3 linked regions of the Homo sapiens genome follow. The protein of the gene in region 3 purifies or fractionates together with the protein of the main gene of each other region. This does not show direct contact. Each region holds a gene or a part of one and is shown on either strand. Other genes may lie near its edges.

What was found. Proteins that work in one complex are often made in the same cells at the same time.
Region 1: the proteins of MARCHF5 (region 3) and MIA3 purify together in Homo sapiens (affinity purification with mass spectrometry; 3 studies listed by BioGRID and IntAct, with this or other methods). This does not show direct contact.
Region 2: the proteins of MARCHF5 (region 3) and MFN1 purify together in Homo sapiens (affinity purification with western blotting; 4 studies listed by BioGRID, with this or other methods). This does not show direct contact.

Annotation. Positions count from the first base shown.
Region 1 is NC_000001.11:222,621,089-222,628,113, reverse strand, and holds part of MIA3 (transport and Golgi organization protein 1 homolog isoform 1 precursor), read right to left. Parts: intron 6,956-7,025; coding exon 6,822-6,955; intron 4,808-6,821; exon of another isoform or gene 4,763-4,807; intron 3,347-4,762; coding exon 3,260-3,346; intron 540-3,259; coding exon 1-539.
Region 2 is NC_000003.12:179,343,567-179,350,725, reverse strand, and holds the start of MFN1 (mitofusin-1), read right to left. Parts: upstream 3,018-7,159; 5' UTR 2,916-3,017; intron 1,882-2,915; 5' UTR 1,875-1,881; coding exon 1,763-1,874; intron 1-1,762. UniProt on the Homo sapiens protein: Mitochondrial outer membrane GTPase that mediates mitochondrial clustering and fusion. Membrane clustering requires GTPase activity. It may involve a major rearrangement of the coiled coil domains.
Region 3 is NC_000010.11:92,294,147-92,301,171, reverse strand, and holds part of MARCHF5 (E3 ubiquitin-protein ligase MARCHF5), read right to left. Parts: intron 1-7,025. UniProt on the Homo sapiens protein: Mitochondrial E3 ubiquitin-protein ligase that plays a crucial role in the control of mitochondrial morphology by acting as a positive regulator of mitochondrial fission and as an important regulator of immune response.

The DNA.
Region 1 (7,025 bases), on a different chromosome or scaffold from region 3:
GAAGTAACGAGTCTGGTTGTCTCATCATCAGATACAAGTGCATCAGCTGTTGAGCCAAATTTGGTTTTCAAGTCTAGAGTCATTTCTTTTTTCAAAAGTTTATAGGCATCAATCTTATCCTGTTCATTTGAGACCTGAGAACTATTGCTGGTTTTGTTGTTTTCACTTTCTGGCACTTTTAGTTTATCTTGCAGCATTTCTTCAAAAGATTCAAATGAAGCCTGCTCTCCCTGAGCATGATTTGCTTGGCTGTTTGCATGGGAGTGGTGCTTCTGAGTTGTAAACTGTTCCTGAAGATCCTCAGTGTTTTCTGAGAATACACTATCACTTTCCTCTGAGTTGGCTTCTACTGGTTCAGGTTCAGGTTCCCTTTCCTTAGATAATTCAGGGTTTTTTTCCATATCCTGTAAAGTTTTTTCTACAGCTTTCTCAGAATCTGTAGCTGCAGAATTGTACAGTTCCAAAAACCCTAAAAGTTCTTCTACATTATAATTATGAAAATCATCTCTTCCTCCATCAAAACAAACAAAATCCGTCTCCTGTAAGAAAAAGAAAAACATTAGTCTGTCAATAGCCAAGTGTCACCAGAGCAAAGTCTTATCCACGTTAATGATTGAGATAATCTCGAATTCACGTTTGGCTCTAGAGGAGCTTTTGCGTCAACACTGGGCACTGACTGTTCTTGGGCAGTGGGTGGATAGGAGGCTGGAACCCACTTTCCCATCTGAGTAATACTCCTGGCTTCCCTTCATTCTCTCTTCCCCAGGGGAAGAATGATTCATGTGGCTGGTGAGTTTGCTCAGTCCCAATCCTGTTTTCTGTTTGGGACCTGCTGGAGAGGAAACACATATTCTGTTCCTCCATGCTGTCCGTTTTACAGGGACAGTCCCACCTGGGGAGACCCCTATTGGATAGCTCTGTCTGTGACTGGATAAGTCCATCTTAGTTTAGACCGCAATGTTAGAAAGCCCATTATTTCTGCATACTCCAAACAGCTTTATCAGTAAATAATGGGGTCATTTTGATCTCCTATTTGCCCAACTCCTGGGTCTCTCAATTTTGTTTTGAGCACAGGTGGGGAAAAGTAAGGTGTCATTTATTGGGTTCCCCAACTCCCATCATCTATGCCTGATGTTCTGGGAATTCACCTTATAACCCATCCAGGAGGAGCTGAAAGACCATCAGCTTCTCTACATTGTGCCCTCTATGTCATACTTCTCTGCTCACCCAGTCAGAAACAGGCAGAATCACCTGGCTGTCAGGCTCTCAGTCTACATGGATTTGGGGCTCATATTTTCCTTGGACTGGGAAAGAAATCAGCTTCAGAAGGAACTTACTGAGATACAGGTGCATGAGATATAAAAATGTAAGAGAACAAAGAATGGTGTAAAGGAGGCTCCCCATTTTCATACTGCCACAAGAACAACTTGAAAACAAGATTCAGTAAGGTAGGTACCTAACTCCAAATAAGGATTCTAGCCAGTCACTAAGATCTGCTTTCAGGACTGTCAAGTAAATCTGTATTTTTCCCTTCCTCCACCAGTAAGCAAATTGACATACAAGGAGCCATAAAATGATGGAAAAGTTAAAAAACCAACAAAGATAACTTTCTTCCCCTAACTAAACATTCACAATCTTCTGGTGAGAACTGTCCTGTGTACTGGAGATGAATGACTTCCCTCTTTCCATCATGCACACTTCTGAGCCAATTTTTTTAATATTAAGGGAATCATGCAGTGGGAACTACAATTAGTATACAGGTCAGGTCTCTGTGACCAATGAATTGCTGTCTCACACTCAAATCCCGGGCAGTCTCTTCATCAGGAGTGAAGCCAAACAGGCAATACGATTGACTATATAACCCCTGAGAGCGTCGAGAAATTTTAAGCATAGCAATAGCTCTGTGACTTCACTCTGCCAATCTCTTCTAAGAACTGCCCTAGCCCAGCAGCTTGCACGCTCTGCAGCAACTCCAAAGAGCTACTCAAAGACTTTTGAATGAAAGCAGACATCAATTACTATAAATTCTAAAACTCACAAAACAATCAGATGGGGGGCTGGGCATGGTGTTTTTTATATATATATATGAAAGGCAGCCTGTAATCCTAGCACTTTGGAAGGCCAAGGCAGATGGATCACTTGAGGTCAGGAGTTTGAGACCAGCCTGGCCAACACGGTGAAACCTCGTTCCTACTAAAAACACAAAAAAATTGGCTGGGTGTGGTGGCAGGCGCCTGTAATCCCAGCTACTCCAGAGGCTGAGGCAGGAGAATTGCTTGAACCTGGGAGGCGGAGGCTGCAGTGAGCTGGTATCGCACCACTGCACTCCAGCCTGGGCGGCAGAGAGAGACTCTGTCTCAAAAAAATAATAATCAGATGGAATGCAGATTCTAGAACACAAAATCCTTCTAGTCACGAAGCCATTGTGCACTATAGATAAATGCTCTACAGAATGTGTAGTTAGCGCCTTACAGATATGAGACTGGACCTCACCTGAAACTCTCTGGTTCCCTTTTCCAAATCTATAACTATAATCGCTTAAATCACTACAGAGTCAATAATAAGAAAACCTTTGTAAGTTTGCATTTCTGGCTCAGTATAAAATTAGAGCTTAATTAATTTAACCTGATTTCTATATCCTTAAAATGTCTAACAGCTATCCAATAAGTAGTTTTCAAATTTCTCCTTTTGCTTGTGAAATGAAATTTTTTGCCTTCTAACATTAATAAGTAAATATAAAACTACTGAACTCTTAATTTTTCACATATAAAGCAGCAAAGAAAAGCCTTGTATAAGAGTACACGGCCTTGGCCGGGCGCAGTGGCTCACGCATGTAATCCCAGCACTTTGGGAGGCTGAGGCGGGCGGATCATGAGGTCAGGAGATCGAGACCATCCTAACACAATGAAACCCCATCTCTACTAAAAATACAAAAAATTAGCCAGGCGTGGTGGTGGGCGCCTATAGTCCCAGCTACTTGGGAGGCTGAGGCAGGAGAATGGCGTGAACCCAGGAAGCAGAGCGTGCAGTGAGCCGAGATCACGCCACTCCACTCCAGCCTGGGTGACAGAGCGAGACTCCGACTCAAAAAAAAAAAAGAGTACATAGCCTTATATAAGAACATCTATTTCCATATATTAGATAACTATCAGATTATGATAAAATCTCATTTAAATTCTTTTGAAATTTTTCTTTTTTTCTAGGTAGTCACTTATAAGCCAACTTATAACTGAGAACAAGACAGAAATCCACAACTTACATCTGTTGGAACTTGTAGCTCTTCTTTGGTATATTCATGAACTACCTGGATTAAATCTTTTGGAAAATATCCAAAAGTGCGTCCAACCTACACAAAAGAATGGGCAAAAGGGACACATATCAATCAAATTCTGTATGAGAAATATGAACGATAGAGCTGCAAACCTCAATCTACAGCACATATCAAGCAATCAACTTTTTCTTGTAATGTCATTACTTTTCTCCGCTATTTGAGACCACTTCCAACATCACTAGTGACACTTTGTATGGGTCCCAGAGTGTTATTCAAGGTTTACAGTATTGCACTAAACACAAAAAATACATGAGAACCACAAGAGATCACTTTTTACTCACTGTACAATTTACTGGAGAGATGAACTGCTCACGTGGAAATGATTAGCGTCGCATGGCATTTTAAGTGGATACTCACAATACTTGAGCTCACTAGAATAGCAAGAGGAGGTGGCTACGAACTATTATAGTACAGTAGGTAGCACAATTAATTTATGCAATTATGATTTAATATTTTATCTTTACGTTTGTTTATATTTCTCTCGACTGCAAAAGGTGCCATGTAAGATCTGAGTTTGTGTGTGTACGTTTTGATAAACTGTAACTTTTTATACAGATTTGTGTATGTTTTATGGTAGTAAAGAATAAAATACACTAGGATCTACATATGGTTTACATGTCAATAACATACCTTTTTCTTAATTTTTTCAGTATTTCTAGGCTATGCGGTCTGAGAGTTTTTAACAAATTAATGCAAACCTCCACAAAATTTTACAATATATTTATTGAAAGAAATCTGCATTATAAGTGGACCCACACAGTTCAAACCTGTGTTGCCCAAGGATGAACTGTATTTGCACATATGATGTGCTATACTGCCATTTTCCAAAACGATATTACAGGTAACTGGAGACAAAACAAAATTACAGTGTAATACACACTAATCTGCCCACCAAGCTTTCATTTCATGCAAACCAAAATCTCTACAGAAAATAATTCCATTCATTTTCAGCACTAGTAAAATGTGCCCTCTTGAGAAACACACAGTCTTTTACTAGCTACTGTCTGAAAGGAGAGGTAGATCTCCCAATCATTAAAGGAGGAGGCTGGCATGTAAATCAAATGCACAAAAAGAAAAAAAGGCCATCTTATCACTAATTCATAAAACATCTCCATTCATGAGTGCTCTTGATCTGAAAACTATCTGAAAGCCAGTATTAGTAGTAAAATACTGCCATGGAGATTAGATAAGGGCAATTAAACTCTGTGTTATTGGCAGATCAAGTCTAAAATGCTAAGAAACCAAAAAAGACTGCAGAATGAAAACTAAGAAACAAATGAGAATCATTTTGAAAGCTGAAGACAGAGTTTTTAATTTCCTAAGAATAAGGTTCATCAAATTAGAGGGGAGACTATTTTAAGGGAGAACCTGGAAAAAGGAAACAAATCAGAGGTAGAGGTATATAGGGAAAGGGAAATACAATACATTTACCTTCCTTAATCTTTGTCAGTTGGGACCACAGGTGGCATCTCATTTCTTATGATTTGACCAAAAAAAAAACAAAAAAAAAAACATAGGCTCACATGACAAGAAAAAATCTTTATGTCTAATTTTGCTTTCATACATCATTTCTGCCAAGGTACTGTTGATTTCATTTGGGCGGGGGGTAGGAGGGAAAGTAGAGTATCGCCTTAAGAGAACAAATTCTGCATAAGATAATATCAGGACAAATATAAATAAATGCCACTGCCTCGTCAGGAAATACTGAAAAAGAAGACAGATAAGGCATGAGCCTTTCCATTAAAGAGTCTTTCACTTTACGTGAGCTAAGACAGTACACAAATTAACTGCCATACAAAGCAGTAAAGCAAATGCCACATGAACAGTGCAAACAAAGTGCCACCTAAACAATCATCAGGCAGCAAAGATCCCTTCTGGCTGGGTGCTGAAGGCAGCGTTCCTTAAGAAGGCAGGATGAGAGGTGTGACCCAGAAAGACTGACAGGACATCCAGAGATGAAGACGTGAATGAGCAAAACTGCAGTGGGAGGAAAATGTTAAGTCAAGTTCATTCATCCAAATGCTCAAAGATGAGGAGTGGAAAAAAAAACTTAACTTTTCTATGAAAAAACGCAGCCTAGGTACATGGAAAAACATTTCCAAGAGTAAAGATTATCAACAAATCTCATTAGGTAGACTTGAAGGAAATAGAATAGATTTGTTTTGGTATGGAGCAAGTCACTTGGGATGCTCTCTAAATAGGAGAGCTGAACCTGACCAGTTGTTGTTTCCCAAGATTACTCCCTAGGAACCTGGAATGCCAACAAAATCAGTCTATTTTCCCCAAGGGGATTTCTCAAGCCTTATTTTCTCTTTGTTTGTTTGGTGTTTTACTGACAGTGAAAACTTTCATAGTCGGGATGGGTATTTCTCTAAGTTGGGACAATCCTAAAGATATCGAGGACCCTTACTACTTGAAGTAAAGACACAGTCCACATATCACGCTTTCTAAAAAGGAAAGGACAATAACTCATAAGACAGGCCTCTCAATCAGGTCACTCCCAGTGAATCTCCTCATTAAAAATACCAAAGCATGATGCAGTCATTGATTGCCAGGTCTGATAGCAGGGTACCCATAAAATCAGCTGGGAATCAATCCCCTGGGGTAACCTCCAGACACAAGTGTCTGAAAAGCAGGACAAGGATGACCCCAAGGCTGCAAACAAAAATACAAACAAGAGGCTGGTTGCGGTGGCTCACGCCTGTAATCCCAGCACTTTGGGAGGTCAAGGTGGGTGGATCACAAGGTCAGGAGATCGAGACCTAGCTAACACAGTGAAACCCCGTCTCTACTAAAAAAATACAAAAAATTAGCCGTGTGGTGGCAGGCACCTGCAGCCCCAGCTACTCGGGAGGCTGAGGCAGGAGAATGGCGTGAACCCGGGAGGCGGAGCTTGCAGTGAGCCGAGATCGCGCCACGGCACTCCAGCCTGGGCGACAGAGCAAGACTCCGCCTCAAAAAAAAAAAAACAAACAAACAAGAAAGCACACGAGAAACAACATTTTGCTTTTTTACAGACTTATAATAGCACAGATGATTAGGGAACTGTTCCCAAGACTGCCACTTTTTCATAAATAATAATATAAACAAAGAAATACACATAAAATCAACTTTAAGCTTACATGCCTGAAACACTCTCTCACATATAGTTTACAGGAGTAAGTCTAATTCCTATGAATACTTCCTTTTTAAAGCAATGAAGTATTTTTCAGCTCTTACCATTTCAACCTCTAATACGTATGCAGCATCCTAGAGGTTGACCCTGAGGGGAACTTGCCAGAATCAGTTCTATTTCAGAAGGCTCTGCTGAGCCCCTACTCTGTGCAGACCCAAGGCCTGCTGGGGACACAGGGCCATCTTTTTTCACAGTCAGGCAGAGAGGACAAGTTAACTCCATCAAAGGTCCCAAGAAAATGCAGTCATTTAACTCTACAGTGCTAAAGAAGCCAATAAAAATTAAGCAAATAAAGTATGTCGATATTTTACTTACACTTCCAGCCCAAACTTCAGGCCATCCTCTTGCCAGTTTATAGTAAACATATACAGGATCACCTTTTTTAAAATTCACAAAACGACAATCCGGGCCTGTGAAATCTTCAAGAGCCTCACCGCGGTACATTAACACTGTATATAAAGAGAGAGAAAAAAAATAGCCAGATATCAGGATTCAGTGTTCACAGTGCATATTGATTTA
Region 2 (7,159 bases), on a different chromosome or scaffold from region 3:
GTGCAATTTGGTGAATAACGGACAGACTGGTTTAAGTATCATTACATTTATTTTTGCTTTTCATTTTATTTTTGCTCTTGTATGTTTTTCTTGATTTATTTGCTTTGTCTCCTTTTTGCAACATTTTTACTGAGGTTCTAAAACCTGTACAACTGAATTCAGATTCTAAAGCTGTCATTTCACTAGTGCCTAGCATGATGCATGATCTATAACACGTACAATACACATTTAACTTCATTTTCACTTCCTATTATTTTTAGAAAAAAAAATATTTTTAAAAAGTCAACTGTGCCAGCTCAAATTATTTCCTAATTGGAAACAAAGATTCTATACTACTATTTTTTTTTTCTCATTCAGCATTGAATTGTGTCAAGTCTGGTGCTAGGAATACAATGAATCCCAGGCTCCTGCCCTAAAGGAGCTCAAAATATGGTAAGAGAGGGTTGGGAGAGACATGAAAAAAAAAGTTTGATTCCCAATCTACCAAAGGTTTCCCCACTGTCGCTGGAAAAATTTACAGAATCCCTCCCTTTCCATTGTATAGTTGAGAGGTGCATAATCTTTTTTTTTTTTTGAAATGGAGTCTCACTCTGTCACCCAGGCTGGAGTGCAGTGGGCGACTTCGGTTCACTGCAACCTCTGCCTCCCAGGTTCAAGCGATTCTCCCTCCTCGAGCCTCCTGAGTAGCTAGGATTACAGGCGTCTGCCACCAGGCCCAGCTAATTTTTGTATTTTTAGTACAGACAGGGTTTCACCATGTTGATCAGGCTGGTCTTGAACTCCTAACCTCAGGTAATCTGCCGATCTTGGACTCCCAAAGTGCTGGGATTACAGGTGTGAGTCAGGGCGCCTGGCCGAGAGGTACATAATCTTAAGAACCAGAAAAAATTTCAACAGTTATCTCCAAAGAAGGATTCCTGGCCGGGTGTGGTGGCTCACACCTGTAATCCCAGCACTTTGGGAGGCCAAGAGAGGTGATCATGGGGTCAGGAGTTCGAGACCAGCCTGGCCAATATGGTGAAACCCTGTCTCTACTAAAAACACAAAAATTAGTCAGGCATGGTGGCACGTGCACTGTAGTCCCATTTACTTGGGAGGCTGAGGCAGAAGAATCGCTTGAACCCAGGAAGTGGAGGCTGCAGTGAGCCAAGAACATGCCACTGCACTCCAGCCTGGGCAACAAGACAAGACTCTGTCTCAAAAAAAAAAAAAAGAAGTATTCCCTAGTAAGACATGACATTCCTCATCACCTTTAACAGTTATGAAACTCCTTTTTCCCCCTTTCCACTGCAATTCAGCCTCATTTGAGAGAATGAGATATGTCTGAGGTCTTGGCTTAACTGCTAAATTGGGGAGGAGACAAGTATAATGGTTAAATGTGGACTGCCTGATTTTTTGTCTGGGCACTTATTAGCTGTGTGATCTTGGGCAAACTGTTTAACTTTTCTTTGACTTCGTCTCTTCATCTTTAAAATGACAGATGGTGGTGATGAAAATTAAATGAACTATTAACATAGCTATTTCTCATCACCTAGTGGTGATGAAAATTAAATGAGCTATTAATATACTAAAGTTCTTAGTTGTTATTAATACCATTTAATTTTCCCCTTCTGGAGGTTAGAAAGGGGTTTTATTCATTATGGTACTTCTCATAGTATACAGTATAATGCCCTATACATGTGTTCAATAACTAACGTTGAAAGAATAAGCACTTTTATATATTTTCAACAGTAATTACTTTAAAAACTTAAGAAGAACTAACCTTCAACAAAATGTGATCCTTCAGTAACAAACTCCAGTAACTGGTCAAAGATTGCAGTAATCGCCTTCTTAGCCAGCACAAAGTGCTTCAGTGGAGAAACAGGTTCTGCCATTATGCTACTAGAGGGAGATAAAGTTAGAAAAGCACCAACTAAAGTGGATGATAGACATGCAAACTGATGACACACCAGTGACATTCATCAACTCCCCAATGAAATAAATTATGCTGGCAAAATGTTTTTAGGTAATTCTTTTTTGGGAGTGTTCTAGTCAGACAGTTAGAGACGACTTTTGAATGATATTTCACTAAAATAAGTGAAATCTATTAGCCAAAATCTTGGTTGCAATTTCTACTCAATTTCCCTTTGGTGAAGACGAAACTAATTGTGACTAAGTTTGTCACTGCATGTGACTCTAAAGTACATCAGGGAACAGGGTTAGTGAGGCGAAGCCAAATTCACACACAATAAGGAAGTTACTAAGTTTCTCAACCTGAAGCTCTAGGTGAGTAGGAGTGGATATGCAGAGTGAGGAAATAAAATTCTAAGATCACAATGTGAGGCTGACATTTAGAAAGGTAAGGCTTCAAGAGGGCATTAACGCTTCCAGCCAAAGTACCAGAAACTTCAAGGACTATAAGTTTAAGAAAGCATAGGTGGTTTCTCAAGAAAAAGACACCAAAGACAAACAATCACGGTCTAATCCTGGTGTGTACATGGAAAGGAACAGTGGCCATAAAGAAGGCGGATTCTTCCAGAGAGTCAAGAAATGACCGCGCGAAGGAGCTGCGTGGGAAAAGCCGGGTGGGGGTAACGCCCCGGTCCGGCCGGTGTGAACACCTGCCTTAGAAAAGGCCTCCCACCTTCCCACACCGGGCGCAGGAGTCAGGGCCAGAGCCCACCCCCGCCCCGCGCACGACCGTCTAGGTCCGGATCCCCCAATCCCACCCCCGAGCACGGCCTCGTGGGCTCCGTGGGCTCGACTCGGCCGCCAGCCCCGTTCGCCCGACAGCTGGCTCTCTCCTTTCCCACAGGACCGCGGCGGGCGGCGCCTCGTCACACAACGCTGCATGCACGACTCCCGCCCCCGGTCCCCAGTCGCTCGAAGGTCACTCCGAGCGTCGCAAACGTGCTGTCGAGGCAGCCGGCACTCACAGTCTCCGCTCCAACTATCACCCGGCAACAGCAACTCGGCCACAGATGCCAAACTGCCTCATCTTCCCGAGAAGTTAAAGGCGGAGAGGAGGCAGGGGGAGTGGCAAAGGGCGGTCACTTCCGGCCTCTTGCCTCCTCTGTTCTGTTTGGCTCCGTGGCCGGAAGCGCATCTATGCCAGGCGCCATTTTCCTTAAGGGCAGAAGGCAAGGTTTGTTGTGGGCAGAGACTGCTACCAGGAGAGTGGTTTTCCGTTCCCCCTTCCAACTTCTTCCCCTCCCTTCTCCCCTCAAAGTGTCCAAGTATCTGCCCAGCCTAGGCTTAGCTAGCTTCCAATGATGGTGGTGGCTGACGCCTATAATCCCAGCACTTTGGGAGACCGAAGGGGTGGGATATCTCTTAAGCCCAGGAGTTCGAGACTAGGCTGGGCAACATAGGGAGGCGCCCCCCCCCCCGCCCCCGACCCTCTTCCTCCTCCCCGTCTCTACAAAATTAAAAAATGAAAAATTAAAAAAATTTTAAAAACTTAGCGAGGCGTGGTGGCACACACCTGTGGTCCCAGCTACTTCGGAGACTGAGGCGGGGGGATTGTTTGGGCCCGGGGCTGCAGCGAACTGTGATTTATCGTGCCACTGCACTCCAGCCTGGGCAAGAGAGCGAGACATTTTTTCAAATAAATAAATAAATAAATAAAAGAAAAGAAATCCAGATCGTATTACTTTCCGAACTTAAAAAGCTTTCCAGGCCGGGCGGGGTGGCTCACGCCTGTAATCCCAGCACTTTGGGAGGCCGAGGCGGGCGGATCACAAGGTCAGGAGATCGGGAGCATCCTGGCTAACACGGTGAACGCCCGTCTCTACTAAAAATACAAGAAGTAGCCGGGCGTGGTGGTGGCGGGCGCCTGTAGTTCCAGCTACTCAGGAGCCTGAGGCAGAGAATTGCTTGAACCCGGGAGGCGGAGGTTACAGTGAGCCGAGATCGCGCCACTGCACTCCAGCCTGGGCGACAGAGCCAGACTCCATCTCAAAAAAAAAAAAAAAAAAAAAAAAAAAAAAAAAAAAGCTTTCCAACAGCTTGCCATTATACTTAAAATTAAAGCTTCGGATGGTAACCGCCCAAGGAAAGCCTTCACCTTGCCCGCTGACTAGCCAGAACTGATACAAGACAGGGGGATTGCAAATAAAGACTTAGTCACGCAAAGCCGGCTGTATGGGAGACTGGAGTTTTATTATTACTGAAATCAGTCTCCCCGAGCAGCACTGGGGAGCAGAATTTTTAAGGACAATTTGGTGGGTTGGGGGAGGCCACTGAGCCAGGAGTGCTGATTGGTCAGGGATGAAATCGCAGGGAGTGGAAGCTGTCTTTCTGCACGAGTCAGTTCCTGGGTTGGGGGACACTAGGTCAGATGAGCCAGTTTATCGGTCTGGGTCGTGCCAGCTAATCCATCAGTTCTGAGCATAGGTAGTCTCAAAGGGAACATTTACTCTGTTTGAATTTTAAAAATCATGATGGTATCCTTTTATTAGTTCTGTACTTAATAATTATATTTAATATAATTACTGCATTTTAAAGCAAGAGTGACATATTACAGGCTATAAATTATAGCACGGTAATTAAATGTTTAATATAGTAAGTAATAAGAAATTTAATCCATTGCTTTTGTGTGTGTGTGGAACACACATATTACCAAAAAGCCAGGAGAGTAAACACAAAGAAGGAAAAGAATTAAAATATAAACGCTAAAACCAACATAGATATTAACAAAAACTAACGTTATTTGAAAGAAATTATCAATTTGATGTATCACTGCCAAATCTGTTCAAGAACATAAAAAATGAAAGGACACAAATTAAGGGGAGAATAACTATAGATATATATATAAATGCCAACAAATTGAAAAGCTTAGATGAAGTATAAAATCTGGGAAAACATCAAATACCAAAATTAGACCGAGAAAAAATAGAAAACTCGAATAGGCTAAGTTTCCCACATATTCAAAACTAGCCAGGTCTAGATGATTTTCGGGGTAACTTTCTATTACATGTTTAACGAAAAGATTAATCTTGCCGGGTGCGATGGCTCACGCCTGTAATCCCAGCAGTTTGGATCATGAGGCGTGTGGATCATGAGGTCAGGAGTTCGAGACCAGCCTGTCCAATATGGTGAAACCTTGTCTCTAATAAAAAACACAAAAATTAGCCAGGCGTGGTGGCAGGTGCCTGTAGTCTCAGCTACTCCAGAGGGAGAGGCAGGAGAATCACTTGAATCCGGGAGGCGGAGGTTTCAGTGAGCCAACATCACGCTACTGCACTCCAGCCTGGGCGAAAGAGCAAGACTCAGTCTCCAGAAAAAAAAAAAAAAAAAATTCACACTTATGGACTACAGAGGCAAACATAGGAAATATTAGCTACCTGAGGCCAACGTTGTATTAGAATTATTTTTTTATCCAAGTAGGGTTTTCCTAGGAATACAGAAATCATCAAACAGAAATCAATATAATCCATAATACTGACAGACCAAAGGAGGAAACCCACATTTATCTCAATACATGCAGAAGAAGTACTTGCTAAAGTTTAATATTTATAATAAGTCCTAACATTTATTTTTTATTTGCTATAAGCAAAGCTCTAATATTTATTATTTTTTAAATTATCAACCATTTCTCTTTATTTCCCTTGTTCTCTGCCTATACTTACCCAACTCTTAATATTTAAAGCATGTTGTTACTATTAAAGTATGTGATACTCTTGGAGGAACAAACGATGGAATGTAATTGTGTAAGACACAGATTTACATGCTAATTATGTCCATGGGGAGTTGGTATATGATAAAATTGGTATTATGAATCACTGGGTAAGATAAATTATTTTATCACATTGGAGAAATTGGTTCAATTTAATTAACAAAAATAAAGTTTGAATCATATCTATATACAAATTCAGATGGGTATAAGACCTGAACATGAAAAGTAAAACCAGGCCGGGCGCGGTGGCTCAAGCCTGTAATCCCAGTACTTTGGGAGGCCGAGGCGGGCGGATCACGAGGTGAGGAGATCGAGACCATCCTGGCTAATCCGGTGAAACCTCGTCTCTACTAAAAATACAAAAAAATTAGTCGGTTGTGGTGGCGGGCGCCTGTAGTCCCAGCTACTCGGGAGGCTGAGGCAGGAGAATGGCGTGAATGCCGGAGGCGGAGCTTGCAGTGAGCCGAGATCTCACCACTGCACTCCAACCGGGGCGACAGAGCAAGACTCCGTCTCAAAAAAAAAAAAAAAAGAAAAGTAAAACCAGAAAATTAGGAAAAAACGTAGGAAAATAATTTGGGGACATTTTAGTTGGAGAGAATTTTGTAAAATTAACAGACAGGAGGTACAATGTAAAGGGAAAATGTGATGAATCTATTACATTAAATTTAAGGATTTCTGTTCAAAAAAGTCATCCATAACAGACACATAGGAAATCTATTTTTTGCAGTATATATTGCCAACAAAAATCAATAGTTAAAAATAAAGAACTTCGGAAAATAGAGCAGAAAACCCAACAGAAAAGCAGACAAAGGATAGGGAGAAGCAGTTCACAAAATGAAAGTTAAAATGACTAATAAGCATATTAGATAGTCTCAACCTTGTTAGTAATCAGATTATGCAAATTTAAACAATAATAATGTACTACTTTATGACCTTAAGATTTACAGGAAATTTAAAAGTTGTATGATATTGTTGATAAGCCTGTGCGGAAACATGATCTTGCTGATGGGAGTATAAACTTTAGTCATTCTGCATATATTTTGGAAGTACTGAATCACAAGTATATAAAAAACTGACAAGAACGTGTATGGTAGGTAGCATTATACAAAAGGCAAATACTTGGATACATGAAAGTCAATTTGATATTTAATTGAATTGTAGTTCAGAAAGGTGACAGTTTCCTGCATTATATGGTAAATCTCTTTGAGGTCAAGAACCATAGTTTATCTTTGTATTCCTGAGCACTTGGCTTGATAGTAGATATTCCATAGCTGTTAGTTAAATAGAAGCATAGTAAAATAGTCTTTTTGTTTTGTTTTGTTTTTTTGAGGAGTCTCGCTCAGTTGCCCAGGCTGGAGTGCAATGGCACGATCTAGGCTCACTGAAACCTCCACCTCCCGGATTCAAGTGATTCTCCTGCCTCAGCCTCCCAAGTAGCTGGGATTACAGGCATCCGCCACCATGCTTGGCTAATTTTTCTATTTGTGTAGAGACAGGGTT
Region 3 (7,025 bases):
CTCATGCCTGTAATCCCAGCACTTTGGGAGGCTGAGTGGGGAGGACTGCTTGAGACCAGGAGTTCAAGGCCAGCCTGGCCAAAACAGTGAAACCCTGTTTCTACTAAAAATACAAAAAATTAGCTGAGCATGATGGCACACACCTGTAATCCCAGCTACTTGGGAGGCTGAAGCATGAGAATCGCTTGAACCCGGAGGCTGCAGTGAGCCAAGGTTGCACTACTGCATTCCAGCTTGGGCAACAGAGTGAAGGCTCTGCCTCAAAAAAAAAAAAAAAAAAGAATTAGGAGGCACTGAAGATGAACTGCTACATGAGTCTGGAGAAGAAGAGAAAAATATTTCTGCAGACATGGTCAGAAGAGCATTATAAACAAGGCAGAACCTAACTAGGTCTTGAAAAATGGGTAGAGCTTTGAAAGAAAAGATGCCAAACAAAACCCAAAAACAAAAACCACCTTATGTTTGGAAGAAAGTGCGCAAGCCAGTTTGGCTTGGGCAAAAGACTTGGGTACTTATACACTTATTCATAAAGAGAAGAAAGGCTTTAAAAAGGCAGTTGGTGCCAGCTATGTACGGCATATCTTAAACATAATAGGGAGCATAATAAATGGTCTGTGAATAATGGTGAGTGTCCTGAAGGACAGGCTAAAGAATATGATCTCTTTTTTTTTTTTGAGACAGGGTCTTGCTCTGTGGCCCAGGCTGGAGTGCAGTGGCATGGTGCAATCTCAGCTCACTGCAACCTCCATAACCTGGGCTCAGGTGATCCTCCCATCTCAGCCTCCCCAGCAGCTGCAATTACAGGTGTGGGCCACCACACCCAGCTATTTTTTCTTTCTTTCTTTTTTTTTTTAAGTAGACACAGGGTTTCTCCATGTTGCCCACGCTGGTCTCAAACTCTTGGGCTCAAGCAATCTGCTCCTCTCGGCCTCCCAAAGTGCTGGGATTACAGGCATGAGCCACTGAGCCCGGCCAGATCTTTTTTTCTTTTCTTTTCTTTTTTTTTTTTGAGACAAGGTCTTGCTTTGTTATACCCAGGCTGGAGTGCAGTGATGTGATAATGGCTTGCTGCAGCCTCAATCTCCCAGGCTCAAGTGAACCTCCCGCTTCAGCCTCCTGAGTAGCTGGGAGTATAGGCATGCACCACTACACTGGTTACTTTTTTATTTTTTGTAGAGACGGGGGTCTTAGTATTTTGCTCAGGTGGGTCTCAAACTCCTGAGATCAGGCGATCCTCCTGCCTCAGCCTCCCAAAGTGCCCAGCCCTGAACTTAATCTCAATAAGCAGTAAGAAAATACAAGTTTTGAGCAAATGAGGCAATTTAAAAAAATGGTGCTTCTGCATGATTATTCTAAGCACTGATATGTCACAAAGAATGAAAAGAAAGACATCATGATACAAAAGAGGGTCTCCTATGCACTAAGGCCCTTGTGGGAAAATAGGATAGGGAATACAGGCAGTTTCTGTTCTCAGTGAACTTCCAGATGAATATGTGTGTGTGTGGGAAGCTCTGAGACATGGGACAAGTATATTAAAAAATTTACAGTACAATGTGATACACTATAATAAATGCAACAAGGTTCTATTGAAACACAGAAAGGAGTTATTAACTCTGTTTGGGGGAGCTGTGCAAGGTGTCACTGTGGTATTTCAGCTGAATTCAATATGGGTAAGACTTCACCAGGTGTTAGGAGGGAGGAAGGCACCTAAAGCAAAAATAAAGAAATGAAAGAGCAGGATATGTTCAGGGGTCAATGAAGGGGAGTGCAGGAAAGGATGGTTAAGGTAGGTTGGGGCTGGATTATAGTAACAGATCAAAGCACGTTACCCCGTTGAAAGTTTACGTTTTATCCTTTTACGTGACACAGAGACTGGCAGATTTTTAAGTATAGAAATCGCATGATTATAATTGTGCCTTCGCTAATTCTAGTGCCACTCTGTAGGCCAAACTGGACCAAGTGAAAAATTGAAGCTAGAAAAAGGAAAATCAACAATATGTGATGAACAAGTGGATCTGGAAGGAAAGAAGGCAGCAAAAAAATGTAAATAGGCCGGGCAAGGTAGCTCATACCTGTAGTCCTAACACTTTGGGAGGCCAAGGTAGGATTGGTGGAGAACAGGAGTTTGAGACAGCCTGGGCAACATAGTGAGACCCGTCTCTATCCCCCTCCCCACCAAAAAAAAAAAAGTTTAAAAAAAATTAGCTGGGCATGCTGGCTTGCCCTGTGCTCCTAGCTACTTGGGAGGCTTGAGCCTGGGAGTGCAAGACCCTGTTTCTTTAACAAAAACAAAGAAAACAAGAAAAACTTATGTTTTGGCTAGCTTCATGCCTGTAATCCCAGCACTATGGGAGGCTGAGGCAGGAGGGTCACTTAAGCTCAGGAGTTTGAGACCAGCCTGGGCAACACGGCGAAAGCCCGTCTCTACTAAAAATACAAAAATTAGCTGGACATGCAGTCCCAGCTAGTCAGGAGGGTGAGGTGGGAGGATATTTTGAGCCGGAGGGTGGGGGATGGAGGTTGCAGTAAGCCGAGATGGGCCACTGCACTCCAGCCTGGGCGACAGAGCCAGACCCTGTCTCAAAAACAAACAAACAAATAAAATTTATGTTTTATAGCTGGTGGACAAGAAGACTGGTAATATCAAAGACCAAAAATTGAGAAGTCAAGATAAGTAGCTTAGTTTTAGATTGATTGGCAATACTGTATACACACAAATGGAAATGTCCACTGGGCAGGTAGAAATTAGGTGCTAAAGGAAATGAGGAAAAGAGGTCAGGAATAAAGACACAGATCTGGGAGTTGTTTGAATAAACAGGAAAGAGAGTGAGTAAGTGTACTTTCTCAAAATAGTAAATGCTGAGAATTGAACCATACATAGAAATTGAAGGAAGAAAAAGGTAACGTGATTCTGAAGGATAAAAAGTCCTGAAGAAAATGTCATTATATTTACTAAGAAATTATTGGTGACCTTTAGTATACATATACATATATAGAGAGAGAGATCGTGCAGTGGCACGATCTCAGCTCACTGCAACCTTTGCCTCCCAGGTTCAAGCGATTCTTGTGCCTCAGCCTCCCGAGTAGCTGAGATTACAGGTATGTGCCACTATGCCCTACTAATGTTTGTATTTTTTGTAGAGATGGGGATTCGCCATGTTGGCCAGGCTGGTCTTGAACTCCTGAGCTCAAGTGATTGGCCTGCCTCGGTCTTCCAAAGTGCTGGGATTACAGGTGTGAGCCACTGCACCCAGCCCTTCAGTACACTTTCAGTAGAGCTAATGACAAGAAAGGGGAATGAAAGTCAAATTATCAGGAAAAATAATAAAGAGAAAATAAGAATCTAAATGTCATAAACGAGACTGGATTAAAAAAGAAAAAAGGCCAGGTGTGGCGGCTCATGCCTGAAATCCCAGCACTTTGGGAGGCCGAGGCAGGTGGATCACGAGGTCGGGAGTTTGAACCAGTCTGGCCAACACAGTGAAACCCTGTCTCTACTAAAAATACAAAAAATTAGCTGGGTGTGGTGGCACGTGCTTGTAGTCCCAGCCACTTGGGAGGTTGAGGTGGGAGAATCAATTGAACTCAGGAGGTGGAGGTTGCAACAGTGAGCCGAGACCACGCCATTGCACTCCAGCTTGGGTGGCAGGGTGAGACTCTGTCTCAAAAAAAAAAAAAAAAAAAAAAAGTTGAAAGCTGGATGTGGTGGAACACACCTGTAGTCCCCCACTTTGGGAGCTTTGGGAGGCCGAGGCGAGCGGATCACTTGAGCCCAGGAGTTTGAGACCAGCCTGGGCAACGTGGTGAAACTCCATCTCCACAAAAAAAATACAAAAAATCAGCTAGGTGTGGTGGTGCACACCAGTAGTCCCAGCTACTCTGGAAGCTGAGGTGGGAGGATCACTTGAGCCTGGGAGGTTGAGGCTGTAGTGAGCCGTGACTGTGACCCTCCACTCCAGCCTGAGCAATGGAGTAAGACCCTGACTCAAAAAAAAAAAAAAAAAAGTAGTCTATTAATATACTTTTCTATATAAAAGCATTAAACCAAGAAGGATGGAAGAATATAAACCCATTTTATGATAGTGGAGTGGGGATGAGAAGATATGCCATTGGGGATGGTGGTCAAAGGGGATTTAATTTTATCTATGATGTTTCCATTTTTTACATATATCTGGAAATAAATATAATTGATGATGATTTTTAATTCTGGGCATTGGTCTGTAATTGTCAACATGGTGATGTGATTGAGAAAAAGAGGTCAACTGACAAAGAAAATGTGAAATTGTTTATACAGCATGCTCCTATCAGAGTATAGCTTCCTTGGTCTTCAAAGGGGTATACATCTGTGGATAACACTCTCACAGAGGCAGAATTCTAATTCACTATACCATTGTGGGAGGGGGCTGGAAGAATAGACCACTCTCTCTGCTCTTTCTGCCATCTGACCATTCTGGGGACATTCTGGCTACACTCCTTGCCTATTTACTAGATGCAAGTAAGTGATGCAAAACAACCTCAACAAATTAATGCGTGTTTATTTTAAGACGGGGGAAGCAGAAGTAGTTTCCAAAAGCATTTCTCAGTAGGTCCAGGCTTCAAATCAGAGGTCCATTCCTGCAGTTTGTTATAATATTCTTTGCATTGTTCTCTGTAAATTCACTCCTAACTTTGAGAAGTTTTAGAGAAAAATGAGAATGTCGGTGGTCAAAGAGAAAGTAATATATAACAACTTCTTATTAAAGAATTGAAGCAATGAAAGACAGAAGAGCTAACTAAGGTTCAAAAGGCCTGACATAAAGGGTTTGGGCTTATGAATGGTTATCATTTCAGGGAAATGATATTTGTGACACTGAAACATTCACGACACTAGAAAAATCACCCCCCTTTCCACCATTCTTGTTTCCCCACAACAACTTAAAAGGTTCAAATAATAAATTTACATAAAACACTTATAGTTTATAAAAACGAAAGGCAATCCAAAGAATATATATCCATATGGTCAGGAGTGGTGGCTCACCCCTGTAATCCCAGCACTTTGGGAAGCAGAGGTAGGTGGATCACCTGAGGTCAGGAGCTCGAGACCAGCCTGACCAACATAGAGATACCCAGTCTCTACTAAAAATACAAAATTAGCCAGGCGTGGTGGCACATGCCTGTAATCCCAGCTACTCCGGAAGCTAAGGCAGGAGAATCACGCGAACCCGAGAGGCGGAGGTTGTGGTGAACCGAGATCGCGCCACTGCCCTCCAGCAGCCTGGGCAACAAGAGCGAAATTCCATGAAAAAAAAAAAAATTCCATATATATATGTATGTATGTATATATATACGTATGTATATGTATTCTTTCCACCTACAAATATTACAGTAATCAAAGTTACCAATATAAACAAATAATAGCTAAACTAAAGTGAGTTATTTGCAAAGGACAAGGGAATTCAACTTCAGCTATTAAGAAGTTGCCACAGGCCAGGCACGGTGGCTCACGCCTGTAATCCCAGCACTGTGGGAGGTCAATTCCGGCAGATTACGACGTCAGGAGATCGAGACCATCCTGGCTAACACGGTGAAACCCCGTCTCTACTAAAAATACAAAAAAATTAGCTGGCCTTAGTGGCGGGTGCCTGTAGTCCCAGCCACTCGGGAGGCTGAGGCAGGAGAATGGCGTGAACCCAAGAGGCACAGTTTGCAGCGAGCCAAGATTGCGCCACTGCACTCCAGCCTGGGCGACTGAGCGAGACTCTGTCTCAAAAAAAAAAATAAAAAATAAATAAATAAATAAATAAAAGAAGTTGTCACCAGTTGGCCCAAGTGACAGAGTGAGACTTCGCCTCAAAAAAAAAAAAAAAAAAAAAAAAAGAAAAGTTGCCTCTAGTTTAAAAACCCTGAAAGATTAAATGGTATAAATTGAACATACCATTCATATTACAATTAAAATAGTCTTCACTTTGACAGTTTAGACAACACAAACACCCCTGGAATTGAAGCTCCATAAGGGCATTTTTGTTATGTTCAATTCACCACTATATACCAAGGGCCTAGAATAGTACTGGGCATATGAAGACACTCAGTATTTGTTAAATAAATTCAATAAGTGTAAATGTTTAATAATTGATTTACTGAAAAATAACATTTTTTTTTAAGACAGGGTCTTGCTCTGTTACCTGGGCTGTAGTACCCAGGGGCACAAACACAGCTCACTACAGCCACGACCCCCAAGGAATCCTTCCACCTCAGCTTCCTGAATATTTGGGACCACAGGCATGTGCCACCAGGCCTGGCCTAATTTTTAACATTTTTGTAAAGACTGAGTCTTGCCATGTTGCCCACACTGGTGTCTAACTCCTGGGCTCAAGCAATCCTCTCATCTCGGCCTCCCAAAGTGCTGGGATTACAGGCATGAGCTACTGTGCCTGGCCTAAATAAAATACGTAACTTAACCTAAAAGCAACAGAACAATATGTAACACACAGTTCCTTAGTCTTCACGAAGATAAAACCTGCATTAAAGAAATAAACAAATGAACAGTTATCTGAGCTAAATTCTGTCCCTCAAAAATTGCCACCAAAAACCAGGTTGGGGAGAAGCCAAATTCATGAAAAGAATTCTGGGTCCTAATAGGCTGACATATTTTAGTCTCTTGGCCCTGTTGGTATTCCTCAAGTGAACCATGTTGAGTATCTTTGTGTTCAACTTGCAGTAGGGCCAGCCCAGGTGAAGAAAGCTGTAAACATAAAGTAGATGGGGGAAAAATGGCCAAACTGGTTTACATTAGTCTTAAGTGCCTTCTATTTGGCTAACATAGAGTGTTTTGCTGTTTTATAGAGATGTATGTTTCATTTGCTGTAGCCCTGTGAAGTAGGGTTCTCATTTTATAAATGATAATATACATAGTGTCAGAATCTAAGTTCAAAGTCACATAGCTAGTAAGTGGCAAAATTCGAATTTCATACTTTCTATCTCTGAGCCCAAGCTTTACTCACTATACCCTACTATCTCTTATCATGAAAGATATCACTGACTTAGGA